Regions from separate parts of the Homo sapiens genome. Here region 2 is linked to region 1. A link means that fine-mapping ties the variant in region 1 to the expression of a gene that starts in the linked region. Tissue or cell type: sun-exposed skin. Region 1 holds a variant in brackets; the other region holds the start of a gene. All regions are shown on one strand. Distances are from middle to middle.

Region 1 (4,481 bases):
GGCTTGATGTTGAACTCCTGACCTGTGCCCGGCTGTGAATACTTTTTTAGTATAAGAATAACCGCTGGGCGTGGTGACTCACACCTGTAATCCCAACACTTTGGGAGTTTGAGGCGGGTGGATCACTTGAGGTCAAGAGTTCGAGACCAGCCTGGCCAACATGGTGAAACACCGTCTCTACTAAAAGTACAAAAAATGGTGGTGGGCACCTGTAATCCAAGCTACTTGGGAGGCTGAAGCAGGATAATTGCTTGAACCCAGGAGATGGAGGTTGCAGTGAGCCGAGATCCCACCACTGCACTCCAGCCTCTGTGACAAGAGCGAAACTCCGTCTCAAGAAAACAGCTGGGTGCGGTGGCTCATGCCTGTAATCTCAGCACTTTGGGTGGCCGAGGCGGGTGGATCATGAGATCAGGAGTTCAAGACCAGCCTGGCCAACATGGTGAGGCTCTACTAAAAATACAAAAATTACCCGGATGTGGTGGCGGGCACCTCTAATCTCAGCTACTTGGGAGGCTGAGGATGGAGAATTGCTTGAATCTGGGAGGTGGAGGCTGCAGTGAGCCGAGATCGTGCCACTGCACTCCAGCCTGGGTGACAGAGCAGGACTCCATCTCAGCAAAAAAAATAAATAAATAAAGAAGAAGAATGACCATGCACTATTTGAGACATACCTATACTAAAAATATTCAAATTTAGGCCGGGTATGGTGGCGCATGCCTATAATCTCAGCACTTTGGGAGGCCAAGGCAGGAGGATCACTTGAGCCCAGGAGTTCAAGACCAGCCTGGGCAACATAGCAAGACCCCATCTCTAAAAAAAAAAAATAAGTAAATAAAATATTCACATTTAACTGGGTGTCTTGGGTCGTTTTGCTAAATCTGGCAGCCTGTCTAGGAAGCCCTCTGGCTTGTTTGCTGTGGCCCACAGCCCTCAATGGTTCAGCTTTGTGTCTCTGTGGAAGGCCCCAGACCCCCACTCCCCCAGTTCCCATCCTTAACAGGGTAGGAGCAGGTGGACGGCTGTGTGTCCAGCACAAGGTGTTTCCATAGAACCAGCCAAGGCCCATCTTGCCATCTTATTTTTTATTTATTTATTTTTTTTGAGACAGAGTCAGGCTGGAGTGCAGTGGTGCAATCCTGGCTCACTGCAACCTCTGCTTCCTGGGTTGAAGCGCTTCTCCTGCCTCAGTCTCCCGAGTAGCTGCGATTACAGGCACCTGCCACAATGCCTGGCTAATTTATATATATATATTTTAATAGAGATGGGGTTTTGCCGTGTCAGCCAGGCTGGTCTTGAACTCATGACCTCAAGTGATCTGCCTGCCTTGGCCTCCCAAAGTTCTGGGATTACAGGCATGAGCCACTGCGCCAGGCCCAGGGGCCCATCTTAACACTGCTCTGTGCATGAGGCTCGTGCTGAGCACGGGCAGTGGGAGCCTTAGAGGCTCCCACTTGGTCCACACCCTCCTCTGTTCTGAACTTCCCTATCAGAACAGGGAAGCTGGGAAGCTCAATCTAATGTGGCAAGTTGCTGAACTGGCTCGGGTCTCAGTTTCCCTATTAGGTTGTTATGAGGGTTGGGGATTTGCTTCTGCTGTAAAGTGTACCCATGATGGTGCCATTATCTGGGAGTTGATAGATTCAAGGCTGGCAGCTCCACATACCCAAGCTTGGAGGTGGCAGGGAGCCACACCTCGAAGACAGATAGAGGTGCCTTGAGTGCAGAGACAGGAAGGGCTTTCCAAAAACAGAAAATAAATAGCCCGGGCAGAGCCTGGGAGGCAGAGCTGTGCAGGGCACCCGGATGGAGGGCATGAGCAGAGAGATGGGAGGCTGGCCCCAAGGGAAAAAACTGGAGGCCATGGGAGCGGTGTGGTCCAGGGTGGCCTGAGTCCCTGGTGGAGAGGTCACAGGCTGCCCATTCCAGGGGCAACCTGGGCTCCTTGCAGCTGGAGGTGCGGCTGCGGGACGAGACGGTGCTGCCCTCCAGCTACTACCAGCCACTGGTGCACCTGCTGTGCCACGAGGTCAAGCTGGGCATGCAGGTGAGGGGACCTGGGCAGGGTGGGAGGGTCCAGTGGCAGTAGGCCTGTGCGCCTGTCCTTCCAAACCCATTCTGCAGAGCAGAAACCTGAGGTCTGGGGATGTGAGGAGCTGGCCAGTGTCCAGGGCCCCATCCCCAGCCACCCCTTGGGAAAATGTCCTCTTTCCCTGGGATGCTCTGAGGTCCTCAGAGGGAAAGGTT[C/T]GGGATCCCCCGTGCCTCTCCCTGCAGGGCCCAGGGCAGCTGATCCCACTCATCGAGGAGACAACCAGCACCGAGTGTCGCCAGGACGTGGCCACGAACCTGCTCAAGCTCTTCCTGGGGCAGGGGCTGGCCAAGGACTTCCTGGACCTGCTCTTCCAGCTGGAGCTGAGTCGCACCAGTGAGGCCTGGGAAGGAGCTGGGCCCAGAACGCTGGGAGGTGTTTGGGGGTGGGTGGGCTCCTCCTGTAGGAGGCAGATGGGGTCAGACAGGAGGGAGGCAAGGAACAGAGCCAAGGGCAGAGGTGGGACAGTGGGCTGGGAGGTGGCGAGGAGGCCCTTTATTGAGGGGCCAGCTTAGATCCCCCAGCCCCAAGGTCCTCTGTCCTCCCCCTCCCCCAAAAGCTTTGTCCCAGCCCCCTACCCACTGGGACCTCTGTTTGTAGTCAGAGTTTGTTTGGCTACTTCCTTTGCAACCCCCACCCCCAACCTTTTTCTGCATGGTAGATGAAAAATTGAAAGTACCTCTGATTGGTCCCTTTCCACAACCAATGAGGCTGGTCATGGGCCAAGTCTTCATTTGCATAGGAGTATAACTTTGTAACTTCACTTCAGCCTTTTCCCAATCAATCAGAGATTTGCATAGGGTGTAACTTTGAAACTTGCTTCAGCCTCTGATAGGTCCCCTCCCTCAACCAATCAGACTGATTGTGGGCACTACTTCATTTACAAGGGTGTACATCAAGTAACCAATGGGAAACCTCTAGAGGATATTTAACCCCCAAAAAATTCGGTAACCAGGCTCTTGAACCACTTGCTCAAGCCACTCCCACCCTGTGAAGTGTACCTTCATTTTCAATAAATCTCTGCTTTTGTTGCCTCATTCTTTCCTTGCTTTCTTTGTGCATTTTGTCCAATTCTTTGTTCATGACACCAAGAACCTGGACACCCTTCTCGGGTAACAAACCCACTTCTAAAATAATGGCATTAATCCATTCATGAGAGCCTCAGCACCTCCCACCTCCCACCACTCAACACCATCACACTGGAGATCAAGCCTCTAAGATATGAACTTTGGTGGACACATTTGAACCACTGCCTTGTCTTACAGGCAGAAGCTCTGACATTTCTGAGAGGAAAACAGTTACTTCATCCTGACCTGGAGAAGTCTCAAGTTGTGGCAAAATATCTCTTCTCCTTAGCAGTCCAGTCTGCAGTCTTCACCCCTCCTTTGAATTCGTCCTGGATCTTCTTTTCAATCTTTTCTCTTTTCCACAGTGCAGGTCTCCCTACTTCTCTACTTTGACTTCACTACTGTTTACATTAGAAAAAGTGAATTTACATAAATAGAGGCTCTCCAGATCTCCTAATTTTCAGTCTTTTCCCCCCTTACTTCAGTAACATCTCTGCTTGTTTTTCCTTCAGACCAGACCCTCAGGTGACTTTCTGCCCCCTCATCCCTCTGCCCCCAGTCTCCATATTCTAGAGGAGTTTGGCCATCAGTCTTATGGTACTTATACCGTCTTCTCTTTGGTGAACATACCTTTTTTTCTCTTCTTTGTCTGGGAATACTCCTATTTAATCACCTTCTAGTTGTCAGGTTCCTTCACCCGTTTGGCCACCAGTCCCAGGTGGAAGCCCTAGGAGGTCTGGGAGCACTTTTCAAATTTTAGTCTACCTGAGGAGAAGCTACCCTTACCTGAAACCAGGTTGTGCAGGCCAAAGAAGCAGGTCTCTGTGTTCTGGAATTAGATCAGCTCAGTGAGGTGACCAAGCTCCATGTAGAGAAGACTATAAGGAGGAGTCTCTAGTGGTGAGAAGTTTGAGGGAGCATGATACTGCTTCCTGTTGCAGTGTATGGAAACCTGTTTCAGCTTGATAGGCCAGGGAAAGCCTTAGAGGAGGTAACTAACCCTGGAGCAGAGACTGGGTTCTGAGGTAGGAGCCAGCTTAATTGGTCTGAGAAGTGGGACACAGGGAGAAGGAGAGGCCAAGGGAAGGGCTTTGGGTTTTATTCTATGTGTAATGGAAACCCTGATGGGTTTTAAAGAGGAGAGGATGTGGCCTGCCCTATGTAGACCCCCTCGCCCTTATCCCTCTCATGCTCCCATTTTTCTTGTTTAAGTTTCCTGTTGGCTGTCCTGTAACCACTCAATGGGTTCTTCTTTCCTGTTGCTCAGATACAGCTGATCTATCAAGATCAGAGAAAGAGTATAATACACATAGAGCCAGCTAAAT
Region 2 (4,481 bases), 35 kb after region 1:
GTAAGTTGGCCAGGCTGGTCTCAAACTCCTGACCTTAAATGATACACCCGCCTTGGCCTCCCAAAATGCTGTGATTACAGGCATGAGCCACCTCACCCGGCCATTTTTTTATTTTTAGTAGAGATGGAATTTTGCTGTGTTGCCCAGTTGGTCTCCAACTCCTGGACTCAAGCAATCCACCTGCCTCGGCCTCCCAGAGTGCTGGGATATAGGCATGAGCCACTGTACCCAGCCTGTCCTTGATTCTTATCAAGGAAAAGTTCTCCCTGGCCTTATGATTTCAATTACCTTGGATCTATAGTTGACATTTCATGCTCAAGGCCCAAACTTGTTTTTCCAAACGCTCCCTTTTATAAATCTTATCAGCCTACACATTTGAATATGTAGGCTCAAACCTTTATTCCTTAATCTCTCCTACCCTCCTCCCTGCCTTCAAAACTTCTGATTCCCCATCCTAGACACTGACACCACCATCCACTAAGTGACCCATTTTGTACACCTCCTTGTTTCACTTTCACCACATCCTCTCCTCGAGTCCTGTCAATTCCACTTCTGCAATGTGGTCCAGGCACTGCTCTGGCCTAGCATCCATTCCATGGTCATTAATTTGGACAAAGCCTCTACTGAACCTTCACAACAGCCTCTAGTCTCCCTCTGTCCCACTTCCGGCCACACTGCTGCCAGAAAGATCTTTTTAGAACACAGATCTCAGCATGTCATTCACCTGCTTCAAAGTCCTAGGATGACAGATGACCCCTTTCAGAGAATAACTCATCAGAATTATCTCTCTTTTGGACAGCTATTTATTTAAAAAAAAAAAAAAGAGTCATACTCTCAGAGATCCTGTAATTCCACCTCTGGCAATCAAACCCAGTAATGTGAATTAAGGAAAAGGCTCATTGTACAATGATGGTTGATCTGGTTTGGATATTTGTCCCCCCCAAATCTCATGCTGAAATGTGATCGCCAGTGTTGGAGGTGGGGCCTAGTGGGAGGTATCTGGGTCGTGGGGGCGGATTCCTCATGAATGGCTTGGTGGCCCCCCCACAATAATAAGTGAGTGCTCACTCTATTAGTTCATGTGAGATCTGGGTGTTTAAAAGAGGTGGCATCTCTCTTGCTCCCTCTCTTACCAGGTGACACGCCTGCTTCTCCTTTGCTTTCTGCCATGATTGTAAGCTTCCTGAGGCCTCACCAGAAGCAGATGCTGGCACCATGCTTCTTGTACAGCCTGCAGAACCGAGAGCCAAATAAACCTCTTTTCTTTATTAATTACCCAGCCTCAGATATTCCTTTATAGCAACACAAAACAGACTAATACACAGTTCGTAACAGCAAATACTTAGTGAAGAATTTTGAACAATAACAGCAGCTAACTCGTATTGAGTGTTTGGTATACAGCAAGCATGTGCTAAACACATTTCATAGCATTTAATTCTCAAAACAACTCTGTAAACATGTAGGACTGGGAGGCTAGGAATGATAAAGTGCCTTGCCCAAGGTCCCACTATAAGTGACCTCACATTCTCTAACCCAGGTCTGTCTGACACCCAAGTCCATACTTTTACCTACTACAGGTAATGACTAAATAAGTTACTAGTCATGTACTTGTGGAAAGTTAATGTTAAAAATTAGTTATAGGACTGGGCATGGTGTCTCACGTTGTAATCCCGCCACTTTAGGAGGCAGAGGCAAGAGGACCGCTTAAGCCCAGGAGTATGAGACCAGCCTGGGCAACATATCGAGACACTGTCTCTACAAAAAATAAACAATTGGCTGGCATGGTGGCATGTAGTCCCAGCTACCCAGGAAGCTGAGGAGGGAGGATCACTTGAACCTAGAAGGTTGAGGCTGCAGTGAGCCATGATTGTGCCACTGTACTCCAGCCTGGGCGATACTCCAGCCTGGGCGACAGAGCAAGACCTCAAAAAAAAAAAAAAAAAAAGTTATAAATACTACTTCACAACATGCTTACATTTACTATTATGTGAATAAGTGGAATACAAAATGCAGTATAATTGTTTTAAATATAGAAAAAAAACTGAAGGTAGGTATGCTAAAATGTTAACAAATAGTAAAGTGATAGAATTAGAAATACTTCTTTCTTCTACTGTTGTGCGTTTTCCAAATTCTAGTGAATGCATTAAACCCTCATGGACTCCCTCTTACCTGCAGGATAAAAACCAGTTACTTCAGCACTGCTCCTAAGGACCACCCAAGTCCACACCATCTGCCCTTCAGCTTCCCCGCTACCCTGTCAGTCCTCCAAGCCTCGTAGTCTCCCCGTTGCAGGGAAAGCCTTTTCCCCTTTTCCCCACCTGCCGAGTTCCTACTCATCCCTTAGGACCCAGCTTCTTCCTGGATACCCTTCTGGATACCCACCCAGCCCTTCTGGATACCCTACAGGGGGAACCCGCTGTCCAGAAGCCTGCAGGTGGCCCCACGGCGCCCCGCCCGCATGACGCAGCCCTCGTGGCCACGGCCCGGCCCCGCCCCGCGCTCGCGCAATCCCTTTCTCAGGCTGCGTTCGCTTTTCAGGCTGCGCGGGAGGCTGTTCTGCCTCCTTCCCAGGCAGGTGTATCCGCGACTCGCGGAGCCTCCGTCACCTTTCACTTCACGGCAGCGGCGCCCCGCCCACACCTCGACGCTTCGGACACCCAAAGAGTTGGAGGGTGGGAAAGTGCGTACCTTCTGGATCCGCTTTAGCGCCATCCTACCCCGCTGCCGGGGACCCGGGCGGCCCGGCCGGGGCTGCCTGAGGCGGCCCGCTGCCGGCTCAGCCGCCACCAAGCTGCACGCCGGGAGCCGCAGCCTGCGCTTGCGCGCGCGGGGCACTGTGGGGCCGTCGTCGCCGCGTGCCGAGCGTCCTGGCGCGGCCGAGGGGAAGCAGCGGGGCTGCCCGGGTTACGCTGGCCACCCGCACCTGGTCCTGTGGCTTCGACCACTAGTCAGCAAGGCCCCGGAGAGGCCAGCGAAGAGGAGGGGCTCGTTGGCTTTACGGAGACGCGCGGAGCACCCTCAAGGTGCCACACGCTCGCCTGCTCCCTGTTCCTACATCCTGGGCGTCTTCCCAGGCTGTCATATAACTCCTGAGAATAGTGGTTCTTAACTCTGTAAGTATATATACCCTCGTACGCCTTATGGCTGGATGCGTTACAGCCATTTCCATGTAGATGTCTGTGCATACGTTCACACGCAAAACTCTCCGCAGTTTTGGAGATCTCCGTGTTCAGTCGTACCTCACGTGATCTTGCACTGCCAACATTGAGAACCCTGGCCTTAGACTATGCATCTCCCAAACTTAATTATCTGTCTCCTTCCTATTTTCCCAAGACTTGGCAGGCGTCTAGGTCAGAGTTGTTCAAACTGAGGGTTATGAACTAGTGTGTCACGAAATCAATTTAATAGGTTGCAACCAACATTTTTTTGAAAAAAAAAAAAAAAAAGCCAGACGAGGTGGCTCACGCCTATAATCCCAGCACTTTGGGAGGCCGAGGCAGGCGGATCACTTGAGGTCAGGAGTTCGAGACCAGCCTGGCCAACATGCTGAAACTCCGTCTCTACTAAAAATACAGAAATTAGCTGGGCGTAGTGACGTATGCCTGTAATCCCAGCTACTTGAGAGGCTGAGGCACGAGAATCACTTGAACCCAGGAGGCAGAGGTTGCAGTGAGCTGAGATCACACTGTTGCACTCCAGCCTGGGTGACAGAGCGAGACTCTGTCTCAAAAATAATAAAAAATAAAAATAAAAAAACAGAATAAAATATCAGTGCATTTCACATAGTAAAGGTAAGAATTGTGGAAGTTTTGTTGGTGTGTGTATGTAGATGATATTTAATCTTCAGACTGAGACATGTTTGAGCATGAAAGTGGCTGTTAATATAATTACTCTGGGACCAACGCTGTAATCTAGAATTGTCTCCAGCCAGCCAAGACACATGGTCACCTCTATGTTTGTACTCAGTCAGCATATAAAATGTATTATAGACATTTCAATAGTTGCCCAGCTTTGTCCCTGGCTTTCACGCTCCCATTCCCCCAATCTGTCCTCCACACAACTTCATGAACTGTCTGAAATATAAAGCTTACCACACTGCATCCTTACCCAGAACTCTTCAAGGAAGCCCCGTGGCCTACAGCATCACATTCACTGTCATCCAGGGGCCTTCAAAATCCAGGATCCTCGGCCGGGCACAGTTACTCATGCCTGTAATCCCAGCACTTTGGGAGGTTGAGGTGGGTGGATCCCTTAGTCCAGGAGTTCTAGACCATCCTGGGCAACATGGTGAAACCCCGTCTCTACAAAAAATACAAAACTTAGCTGGGCATGGTGGTGTGCACCTGTAGTCCCAGCTACTTGGGAGGCTTACTTGAGCCCAGGAGATCAAAGTTGCAGTGAGTTGTGATGGCACCACTGCACTCCAGGCTGGGAGACAAAGCAAGACCCTGTCTCAAAAAAACAAAAACTCAAAGTATCCT

Direction of the effects. Alleles are on the strand shown, and positions count from the first base shown. SD is a standard deviation of normalised expression in the study named.
With allele T in place of C in region 1, the expression in sun-exposed skin of the gene that starts at base 2,809 in region 2 is lower (small effect, 0.26 SD a copy in GTEx).

Evidence for each region. PIP is the estimated chance that this variant, and not a neighbour inherited with it, causes the effect.
Region 2: it holds the start of UBE2D4, and the variant in region 1 is fine-mapped to the expression of UBE2D4 in sun-exposed skin (GTEx, PIP above 0.99). The same link has a PIP of 0.9 or more in unexposed skin.

What each region holds. Positions count from the first base shown.
Region 1 is chr7:43,959,539-43,964,019 of GRCh38, reverse strand. It overlaps the pseudogene POLR2J4. Among named protein-coding and RNA genes, the nearest start is that of UBE2D4, 35 kb to the right of the region's middle. The variant C/T (reference allele first, on the strand shown) is at 2,248.
Region 2 is chr7:43,924,764-43,929,244 of GRCh38, reverse strand. It overlaps UBE2D4 (ubiquitin conjugating enzyme E2 D4), which reads right to left and starts at 2,809. Exons shown (of 7, transcript NM_015983.4): 1 at 2,689-2,809. The coding sequence starts at 2,712. It also overlaps a transcript of URGCP not described here. RefSeq lists a silencer at 2,376-2,915.